3 linked regions of the Homo sapiens genome follow. The protein of the gene in region 3 interacts with the protein of the main gene of each other region in a biochemical or structural test. Each region holds a gene or a part of one and is shown on either strand. Other genes may lie near its edges. The genes, in order: NXF2, DDX19B and NUP214.

Region 1 (3,755 bases), on a different chromosome or scaffold from region 3:
GCACATGCGTGGGGTCATGTGCATGTGTGTTTCCTTTCATGTTCCAACTTTCTAGTCTCTACAGTACAGGAAAGCATATAAGAATGTTTAAGAGTGCTGGAATAGTTGCCAAGTAAGCAGATTCATCGTATATTTCACAAGACATGTTTTCTGTTGTAAATGGTATATTTACAATAATGATGGTATTTTCTTTGTTACAATGGTTTGTGTATGTTCGTCTTATAGCCAACAAACTTGTTAATCTCCATTATTATTTTTAATTTTCTGTAGCTTCTCTTGAGTTTCATATGAAGATAGTCACGTTGACAGCTTTTTCACTTTTATACACGTATTAATTTATGTATGTAGGCATGCATGTATCACAGCTTACCGCACTGCCTAGTATGACATATGGCTTACTGCACTAGACTCAGTACGACATTGAACAGAATTCGTCATACCAGTCATCTTTATCCCTTTTCTGATTGTAAGGAGAATACTTCTAATGTTTTACTATTAAGGGTGGTGTCTGATGGGGTCTATTGTTTTGATACCCATTGTCAGTTTAAAGAGATAGCTTTCTATATTACCGATCTGCTGAGAATTATTGGTATTGTTGTTGTTCAATCCCGGTTGGTTAATTTATTGCATACTTTTTTTTTTAACTGGATCTTTTGTGGTATTTGTCCTGTCCTCCTCCCTTTATTCAGCTAATGTGTTAGATTACATTATGGATCTCTTAAAATGTTAAACTCAGCTTGCATGCTTGGGATTAAACACAACCTCGTCATGCTGTATTATCTGCTTTACCCATTGTTGGGTTTAGTTTGCTATTAATTGATTTATATTATTTGCGTTTATGTAACTAATTCGGGTTGGCTAGTAATTTTGCCTTTGCATGTATTCCTTGTCAAGAATACATTGAATAAACCAAGGTTTTCTATTCCTTCAGTTTGGAAAGTTATATATATTTTTCCCCTGGAATTCATCTATTTAATCTAAATTTTCAAATTTTCACATCCTTTTCATAATGTGATCTTTTTCAATCTTTTCTGTCACTGTAAGTGTGACACTATCTTCATTCCAAAAGTGGCTGACCCGCACCACCTCGCTAATTTTCTCTGCCCGTGTGGCCAGAGATTTTATCATTATCCTGCGCTTCTGAAACACTGACATCTAGCAATTTTGTTCAACTCTCTCACATGGTGTTTTCACTTTCATCAAGGTAGGCTCTATTTTTTTATCATTTTTCCTCAACATAGCGGTAAGACATGGGGATTATTCCACATTAAGTAAATGATCAATGAAAAGTCCTTTCATCTACCACCTGGTTTTATTTTTATAATTGAATACAATGGATATTCAAATATCCAATACATTCCCTCATTTGGAAAAGACCTCTGGCTTATCAGTGCTGGTCTTTTTAACCAGTGCCATCGTGTCTATTCAATTAAACTATCAGATGATTAAGGAAGAGGGCATTGCATCATTGATGTAAAAGAATTTTTACTATAAGCTTCCTTTAAGAGAAGAGCAGGCAGCGTAGAAAGAAGCAGAAAGGACATCGACTTTGAAATCACGCCTGGGTGGATTCAAATCCTGATTCTGTCACTTACGGCCGATGTGATGTTAGGCAAGTACTTAATCCCTCCCAGCTTTGATTCCTTCATGCAGTAGTCAGTGCTGCCATTTACCAAGTGTTTACATTCTCCCCTGTACCAGGCACCTGGTAGGACTGCCCGACCCGACTGCCTTCCTTGGGGCAGGGCCGTGCATGTGACTAGCTCTGGCCAATGGGTTGTGAGTGACGAGTGACACGGGTTATTTCTGGGTCAGAACCTTTGGTTGTTGGTTTGAGACCCTCTACGGCTCTCTCCCACTCTGACGCAGTGAGTAACCCCTTTCTAGATGGTGGCTGCTCCATTAGTTTGGGTCTCTGAGTCATTCCAATAAGAATGGCTCAGAACCCAACATCCACCATCCCGTGAAGGATATGCACCTGGCATAAACATGCAGCAGGAGTGAGAAATAAGTCACTGAGGTTTGGGGGTTGCCTATAAGCACAGCGTTACACTCAGCCTCTCCTGACTCATATATCTCATCTGTCAATTAAGATAACACCCTCTCAGGACTTTCCTGAGGGTTAAATGCAGTAACTTGCATGACAGCCGAGGTTATCACAGTGCTTGACATATGACAGGGGCTCAAACTATGGCAGCTGTAATTATTAAGTAATAATAAAATGGTTCTGAAGAAGTGTGGTTTTTTATTGTGTAAAATGAGCGGTACTGCATCTGCTTGTCCTGACAGGTAAGTTGTATCTTGTTTTCAAGAGTGGGGGCACTTTATTTGCTGCCACAGGTAAGGCTTCCTAATGACTTGCATTTATGCACATATTGTCTGCCACCACCATGGTATCAGATGCATGCTTGGCGGTATCTCTGAAGAGTAAAAAAGTACAAAGATTCAAGCAGGAGAGACTGACTGATGACATGAGATAAAATGAATTAAAGAGCAACAATCAATGTCTTAATGAGCAGACTAGATTACAACTATTATAAACCCACATTCCATTGTTCTGAGTAAACAAAGGCACAAGGTTTTAAAGTGTTAGAAGATGTAGTCTGAACAGGGTTTCCCCAAATATTTTCTGAAGAACACTGGTACCTCAAATGCTCTGTGGAAAAAAATGTTCCATTCCCATACAAGTTGGGGAAAGTAGCCCCCCCTTTGAGACTCGTGTTGTTTATTAGCATATCATCTAAAAAAATCCTACAGTATTCGTTTACCTTCAGTTCTGTATGTCCCACACTTCTTTAGAGTAGAGCACATTTTGTTGTTGCTTTGTCCTGACACTACAGTCTCACAGAACGAACTTGGAAATGCTGAAATGAGAGAAAAATAGATTATTCAACCTACATGTAATATCAAATATCACAAGTGACAATATTCTCTAACCATCTGACAAGCAATATTTGAAACCCCGTAAGTTTAAGCACAATCTTGCTATTTGCTCAACTTCATTCACCCAATACCGCTTTCATGATGTACCAAATGTTATCACCCATGATTGTACCTTAAATCCATTCACTATACTTTTTTCCACAGGAAGAAAAGGAGAGAGTTTTCAGAAAGGAATCTAAGAAGCAATCATTAGAAAATCAGGGGTTGATGGGGGGAGAATCAGAAACAAAAGAGTGTGAAGCTATACTACTATAAGCTACTGAGAGATCCTAAGCGCACACACACACAAAAAAAATGTCACCCACTCCCAAATGTACTTTTTAAAGCCAATGGAGTTCAAATAAAGTATAACAAGTAAATTCTGAATCTTCACATCATGACGACTTGGACACTTTTATTGAAATATCAAATTCTCTTTTTAAAAAAATTCCCGATTCCCCTCTCTCCCTTTCGCCCACCCCCCTGAGCCCATGTTTAGAAGGTTTAGTAGAAAAATAAATCATGGAAACAAAGAGAATCTTTACATAATCAAATAAGAGACAGAAATTAAGATTGGGTCTGGAATCGTCTATACAAACTGGGATCTAGGCAGTCTCGAGTGTCCTTAATAACAACATGGTCTGAGGAGGGGCAGAGGACAGAATCACCTGGCACAGACGGTGAATCGGGCAGAGTGACAGGCAAGGGTAGGGCTTTTAGTGTGGGGGCGGGAAGGGGGGGGAATCCCATCAGGCTTCCACAGCCCTGCCCCTGAGAAACGACTTACGAGTTCATGAATCCCTGCCGCCCCACTACCAACCCTACCCCTATCC
Region 2 (3,755 bases), on a different chromosome or scaffold from region 3:
CTCAGCCTCCCGAGTAGCTGGGATTACAGGCATGTGCCACCATGCCTGGCTACTTTTTGTATTTTTAGTAGAGGTGGGGTTTCACCATGTTGGCCAGGCTGGTCTTGAACTCCTGACCTCAAGTGATCCGCATGCCTCAGCCTCCCAAAGTCCTAGAATTACAGGCGTGAGCCACCACACCTGGCCAGCCCTTTAATTTTTTTAAAAGTCAGGTTTATGGAGGTATAATTTACACAGAGTAAAATTAAACTTTGTTAGTGTACAGTTCTATGAATTTTGACAAAAGCATACAGTTGTGTAACTACCACCACAGGCAACACATAAACCCTCTCTACAAAGAACTACAACTTCTTGTAGTTCACTCCCTCTCCTCACCCTTCTCTGGCAGCTGCTGATATGTTTTCTGTCATTATAGTTTTGCCTTTTCCAACATGTCATAAAATGGAATCATATATATAATATATAACCTTTTGAAAAGTCTGGCTTCTTCCACTTAGTATTATGCATTTAGAATTCAACCAAGTTGCATGTATCAGTAGTTCATTCCTTTTTATTGCTGAGTAGAATTCCACTGTGGATATATATACACAGTTTGCTTATTCTTCTATTGATGGACACTTGAGTAATTTTCAGTCTGAGACAATATGAAGAAAGCTACTCTATACATTAAGGTACAGATTTTTGTATGGACATATGTTTGCATTTCTCTTGGGTAAAGTCAATATCAAAGAGTAGGATTTACTGTGTTATGTCGTATGTGTTTAACTTTGTAAGTTATGTGCCAAACTATTTTCCAAAGTGTATCATTCTGCTTTTCCAACAGCAATGGATGAGAGCTTCAACTGCCCCACACCCTTCCCTGCACAGTATTGTCAGTTTCCTTCATTCTAATAGGTACATGCTGGTGTCTCATTGTGGTTTTAACTTATATATCTCCCTAATGACTAATGATGTTGACAATCTTTTCATGTGCTTATTTGCCATGTATGTAACTTCTTTGAAGTGGCTTTTCAAACCTTTTGCCCATTTTTAAAGTAGGATTGTTTTTGTTTTTAGTTGGGAAGTTTCTTTATATATTCTGGATAGAAGTTCTGTTTTTTGTTTTTGTTTTTGTTTTTTTTGAGACAGGGTCTCACTCTGTCACCCAGACTAGAGTCAGGCTAGAGTGCAGTGGCATGATCTTGGCTCACTGAAACCTCCACCTCCTGGGCTCAAGGGATTCTCCCACCCTGTCTCCAGAGTAGCTGGGACCACAGGCATGCGCCACCACATCTGGCTAATGTATGTATTTTTTGTAGAGACAGGGTTTTGCCATGTTGCCCAGGCTGGTCTTGGAACACCTGGGTTCAAGCAATCCGCCCACCTGGGCCTCCCAGAGTGCTGAGATGGATTACAGGCATGATAAGTCCTTTATCGGATATGTTTTGCATATATTCTCTCAAACTACAACTTGTCTTTTTTCAACAGTACTTTTCAAATAATAGACATTTTCAACTTTGATTAACCTAATTTATCAATTTTTGTTTGTTTGTTTGTTTTTGAGACGGAGGCTTGCTCTGTCGCCTGGGCTGGAGTGCAGTGGTGCCATCTCGGCTCACTGCAAGCTCCACCTCTCAGGCTCACGCCATTCTCCTGCCTCAGCCTCCCGAGTAGCTGGGACTACAGGCGCCCACCACCACGCCAGGCTAATTTTTTTTTGTATTTTTAGTAGAGATGGGGTTTCACCATGTTAGCCAGGATGGTCTCGACCTCCCGATCTTGGGATCCGCCCACCTCGGCCTCCCAAAGTGCTGGGATTACAGGCGTGAGCCACCGCGCCCGGCCTAATTTATCAATTTTTAGATGATTAGTTCTTTTTGTGTTCCAAGATATACACCTTATCCAAGGCCACAAAGATTTTCTCCTGTGTTCTCTAGAAGTCTTATAGTTTTAAATTTTACATTTATGTCTGTAATCCATTTTCCATTTTGAGTTAAATTTTTTCTAATAAGGGGTATGCATTGAGGTTCATCTTTTTTTTTTTGAGGCGGAGTCTGGCTCTGTCTCCCAGGCTGGAGTGCAGTGGCGCAATCTCAGCTCACTGCAACCCCTCGCCTCCGGGGTTCAAGCAATTCTCCTGCCTCAGCTTCCCTAGTAGCTGGGATTACAGGCACCCACCACTATGCCCAGCTAATTTTTGTATTTTTAGTAGAGACAGGGTTTCACCATATTGGCCAGGCTGGTCTCAAACTGCTGACCTCATGATCTGCCCGCCTCGGCCTCCCAAAGTGCTTGATTACAGGCGTGAGCCACCGTGCCTGGCCGAGGTTCATCTGTTCATCTTTTTCACAGAGATGTCTTTTTTTTTTTTTTTTTGAGACAAAGTCTTGCTCTTGTCCCCCAGGTTGGAGTGCAGTGGCGTGATCTCAGCTCACTGCAACCTCCACCTCCCAGGTTCAAGCGATTCTCCTGCCTTAGTCCCCCGAGTAGCTGGGATTACAGGCGCCTGCCACCAAGCCTGGCTACTTTTGGTATTTTTAGTAGAGACAGGGTTTCACCATGTTGGCCAGGCTGGTCTCAAACCCCTGACCTCAGGTGATCCATCCGCCTTGGCCTCCCAAAGTGCTGGGATTACAGGCGTGAACCACCACTCCTGGCCAGAGCTGTCTTAATTGTTCCAGCACCATTCGTTTAAAAGTCCTTTGGTTTTCTTTTTTCTTCTGTTTTTCATCTTTGTCTCTTTTTTTTTTCTTTCTTTCTTTCTATATTTCCTGGGAGATTTTCTCAAGTACTGTCTGGTATATTTCATTTTCACTTCTACTTTCTTATTTTTAATTTCAGGAACTTTTTTCTTCTTCCTTTACTGTTCCTTTTTTACAGACAATACCCTGTACGGCTTTCATGGTCATAATATCCTCATCATTTGGAGGATATTTTTCTTCTTCTCTCTGCTCAGTCTCTGTTTCATGTGAGGCGTGTTTTATCCATATATTTCAGTGTCTACTTTTTTGTGATGACTGTTTCTCAGATGTCTGTAATCCTTGCTTGGCCACTCATATTTAAGAGTGAGTGACTAAAAAGTTGAGTGGAAGCTGTAAACACATGAGTGGGGCTTGTCTATTCTGACCTTAACTATATATCTTTAGTGGTCTATGTCAGCATCCTGAGAACTTTCCTCCCGGTCTGGCCAGATTTTGCAGAGAGGGATCCTCTAAACTCCTGCCTAGATGGTGGAGGTCTGACTCAGTGTTCTGGAATCTAGGTGGAGGAAAGGGTGAGGGAGGTCTCAGGACCCAGAATACCTGCTTCCACTTAATGCTTCTGTTTTCATTATGGCATCCCCTCCCTTAACTGTGGTCCTTATCCATTTGAGCATTTCTCATGCCTAACCTGGCAGGCATTGTTAACTGAGTAAATGAACTGTGTAGTTTGTTATTTGTTGCAAAGAAACTTTTGATCATTCACTCTCAATATGTAAATATCTATTTAGAAATTGCATACTTTACTGTTTTATTAAATATATTATGTACATTGTAAAGCAAATAAAAAAGTAATAAAGGCTGAGATAAAAATGAAATAATGCTTTCCTGTGCTTGTGTGTGCTGGCTTCATATTTTTATTAGCCAATATCTCAAGGCACAATATACACTTAGAAAAAAAACACATCATTAGTCAACGTAGAGATAAATATGTGTTTCAAGTAGTTCTGAGAGGTTTTTTGTTTTTTTAATTATTATTTTTTAAATTTTTATGTATTTATTTTTTGAGACAGAGTC
Region 3 (3,755 bases):
TATCCCAAAATTAAAGCCAGTCCTAACAAGTGGAAAAAGAGAAATTAAAAAGGAACAAACCAAGGCACAATATTGCCCTCTTAATATTCCATTTTATCATTCATTCATACAAACCGCCCTCAGGAATTTACAATCTAGAAGATAAATGACAACAGAGTCAAAGCACCTATCTCAGAAGCAGTAAGGCCACTCTATGATCTCTAAGCAGAGAAGCAGTTTGTGTGTGAGATACGACAGGGATAGCAGTTGAGAGCCCATTGGGGGATGGCTGGGCTTTCTGTAGCAGAAGTTTGAGTGGGGACTTCTTGCAAGATGAGCAAAGCTGCAGCAGTAGAGACACATGACAAATGTGCATGTGGGAATGGTGGCCGGAGCAGATGGTCTGTTAAGTGAGGGGACAGAAGGAAGGTCTGGTAAGACAGAAGCACTTAAGACTAGGGAGAGCCTCTCAGAACCCCTCCAAGACCAACAAGCATGTCAGAGAGCCCCACACTGCTAGGGAAAACAATGGATACAATGAAATAGAAGCCCTAACTCAGTCATTTTGACAGAACTGAGTTTTACGGCTAGGAAAATCTAGTTCAAAAACTTTGTGACTCCTTTCACCATCTCCTCTCTCCTTTTGTACGTTTTCTTTACACTGTAAGTGAAGACACCATAGCTAAGGAAGAAAATCCCACGCGAGTGTGAATCAGAACAGATTATTCACTGTGATAAAAACTCAGGCCAGGCATGGTGGCTCACATCCCAGCATTTTGAGAGGCTGAGGCAGGTTAATCCTTTGAGCCCAGGAGTTTGAGACCAGCCTAGGCAACATGGTGGAACCCTGTTTCTACAAAACAAAAACAAAAACCCAAAAACCAAACAAACAAAAACAAAAACCCCCAAAAACCAAAACCGAAAAATTAAAAAACAAAAATCAGCCAGGTGTGGTGGCGCGCACCTGTAGTCCCAGTTATTCGGGGGGCTAAGGCAGGAGGATCACTTCAGTCCTGGGGGTGGAGGTTGTAGTGAGCCATGACTGTACCACTGCACCTTTTTTTTTTTTTGAGACAGAATCTTGCTCTATCTCACACACACACACACGCAAAGTTCAAATTGCAGATTTCAAACTAGCTTTAAAATATAACGAACCAAGCACATCAAATATACTAAATAATGTAATAACTTAGACACCTTTGCCCATCATATTAAAAATAAAAAAAAAAACACAACCTTTCTTAGTGAAAAAATTTTATCTAATAGTGTCAAGCCATTGATTCAATGACCCCACCTTTTCTGGGTTATTTTAAAAATGGGAAGAGGGCCAGGTGCAGTGGCTCGTGCCTACAATCCCAGCACTTTGGGAGGCTAAGGCGGGTGGATCACTTGAGGCCAGGAGTTCAAGACCAGCCTGGGCAACATGAAAAAACCCCATCTCTACTAAAATACAAAAATTAGCTGGGTGTGGTGGTGCACACCTGTGATCCCAGCTACTTGGGAGGCTAGGGCAAGAGAATCACTTGAACCCGGGAGGTGAAGATTGCAGTGAGCTGAGATCTCACCACTGCGCTCCAACCAGGGTGACGGAGTGATACTCTGCCTGAAAATCCAAAAAAAAAAAAAAAAAAAAAAAAAAAAAAAAAGAAAAGGAAGAAGAATATCATTTCACAGAAGACTGATTATTAGCCATCTGTAAAGGATGCAATAATTCTTGGCATTGACCTACTCTTTAAAATTTGCTGCAAATTACCTTTGGGAAGCATAAAACATAATGATTTATAATAAAGAAAAAATATATGTATTACTTTCCCCCTCAAATAATATTCTAATACCCTCTTTTCTCCTTAGGCTGAAGGACACTCAAAAAATATATTAAAATCAGGAAAAAGAGACTGGTTAATATGCTCCTAGTTACAAAAGCATAAACTGAAGAACTTAAGAGGCTTTTCTAAGGAACTGAATGCACAATGCTTCAATGGCAAAAAATCCTTTTGACACATTTTGATCTCAGTTCCACAGAGTCTAACCCAATGCTTCAGCAGCTCACACAGGTTTCAACATGAGCGCTCAGGGCACAGAGAACAGGCACCTTAACAAAGGCTCATCTTGAGATAAGGTATAGAAGATTCTTTCATTTTTAAAAACAACTCAACTTTACAAGTACAGCCATCATTATTATTATTATTTTTTAAAGAAACGGAAACAGATTCCTCCACATCTATATAAAACCTCAAATTTCAAATGCCTATTATCTTTCATTACATTCTCTAAGTTTAGTATACTGTACTCTCGATGCAGTAAGCCTTTTTTTTTTTTTTTTTTTTTTTTTTTGGAGACGGGGTTTCACTCTGTTGCCCAGGCTGGAGTACAATGGTGTGATCATAGCTCACTGTAACCTCGAACTCCCGGGCTCAAGGGATCCTCCCACCTCAGCCTCCCAAGTGGCTGGGACTATAGAAGTGAACCAACGTACCTGGTTAATTTTTCAATTTTTTGTAGAGATGAGGTCTCACTATGTTGCCCAGGTCAGTCTCCAACTCCTGGCCTCAAGCAATCCCTCCCACCTTGGCCTCCCAAAGCACTAGGATTATAGGCATGAGCCACCATGTTTGTCCAGCAAAGTCAATTTGAATGTCACATCTAGCCCCCAAAATGGTGTCAGAATGGAAACATCTCAGTGTGACAAACTAGATGAACTACAGAATTTAGCAGACTCATTACTCAAAGAAAATGAGGCTTAGGCTAAAAAACAAAACAGATACACAAATATGTAACAAACAAGTATTAACTTGAATTGCAAAGGGAAAATCGATTTACATGAGAACATTAAACTATTGCCACTATCATCACATGTATTACTGCCACGGTAAGAACTCTGGGTTCATACACATTTAATAAGTAAATAAATATATCTATAATTGTAAGATTTGGGGAAGCTAATTGCTAGTAATTTGCCATAAAACTTAAGTTCATTACTGACCCTGATGGAGAAAATGAGAAAGGCTTGCTGAACTGCCCAGAAGCAGATGGGGTTGAAGTCACAGCTGTTTCTATCTTGGCTGTCCCTGAAATTATGGAAAAAAAAAAAAAAAAAAAAAAAAAAGAATATTACAAAAAGACAGAAACACTGTTCCAGTGTATAATTCCCTGTAGCTCAGCCTGTGAGGTGCTGCTTAGCACCACATGTGCCTTCTGTGACACGTCAGTGGCCATGGGGAGTGAGCACGTTGCCTCACTTGTGTTTGAGGTCTCTGAAATTGCTCCGTGGCTCTGTCAATGTTAATTCCAGTCTAAGGTGTGCCATCTTCTCCTTTACAGAAAATATATCAAAATAATTCTAGTATAGTTTAAATGTACAGTTTTAAAAGTACACTCTTATATATTTCAATGGTATGGGAAAATGCTTATAATGTGAGGCTAAGCCCCCTCCCCACAAAAGTAAATAAAACTATATATAATGTAGCTTTATAATTATTTGAAATTAATCTATGCTGAAGGACAAAAATCCAAAAGAGAAATAGGTTCATAAGCTAAATATTTCTGAGTAGTGACTTTAAGGCTGTTTACTTCTATATACATTTCTGCATTTTCCACAGATTTTGTTGGCATTTAACAAATAATCGTGTTCTTTTTTTAAAATTACAGATGTAAAACATGATTGCTATAATATGGAGACATGCAAAAAGGTTAAAAGTGCAATCCATCATTCTCCCCATGTTCGATTTCACTCTAACTACTTACTTATAGTTTGGGTACAATCTTCAATCTTTTCC

The links.
Region 1: the proteins of NUP214 (region 3) and NXF2 form a complex in vitro, tested with the Homo sapiens proteins (one study listed by BioGRID).
Region 2: the proteins of NUP214 (region 3) and DDX19B are reported together in a solved structure, tested with the Homo sapiens proteins (2 studies listed by IntAct, with this or other methods).

What each region holds. Positions count from the first base shown.
Region 1 is NC_000023.11:102,306,135-102,309,889, reverse strand, and holds part of NXF2 (nuclear RNA export factor 2), read right to left. Parts: intron 2,865-3,755; 5' UTR 2,812-2,864; coding exon 2,769-2,811; intron 1-2,768. UniProt on the Homo sapiens protein: Involved in the export of mRNA from the nucleus to the cytoplasm.
Region 2 is NC_000016.10:70,302,035-70,305,789, forward strand, and holds part of DDX19B (ATP-dependent RNA helicase DDX19B), read left to right. Parts: intron 1-3,755. UniProt on the Homo sapiens protein: ATP-dependent RNA helicase involved in mRNA export from the nucleus.
Region 3 is NC_000009.12:131,191,500-131,195,254, reverse strand, and holds part of NUP214 (nuclear pore complex protein Nup214), read right to left. Parts: intron 3,048-3,755; coding exon 2,963-3,047; intron 23-2,962; coding exon 1-22. UniProt on the Homo sapiens protein: Part of the nuclear pore complex. Has a critical role in nucleocytoplasmic transport.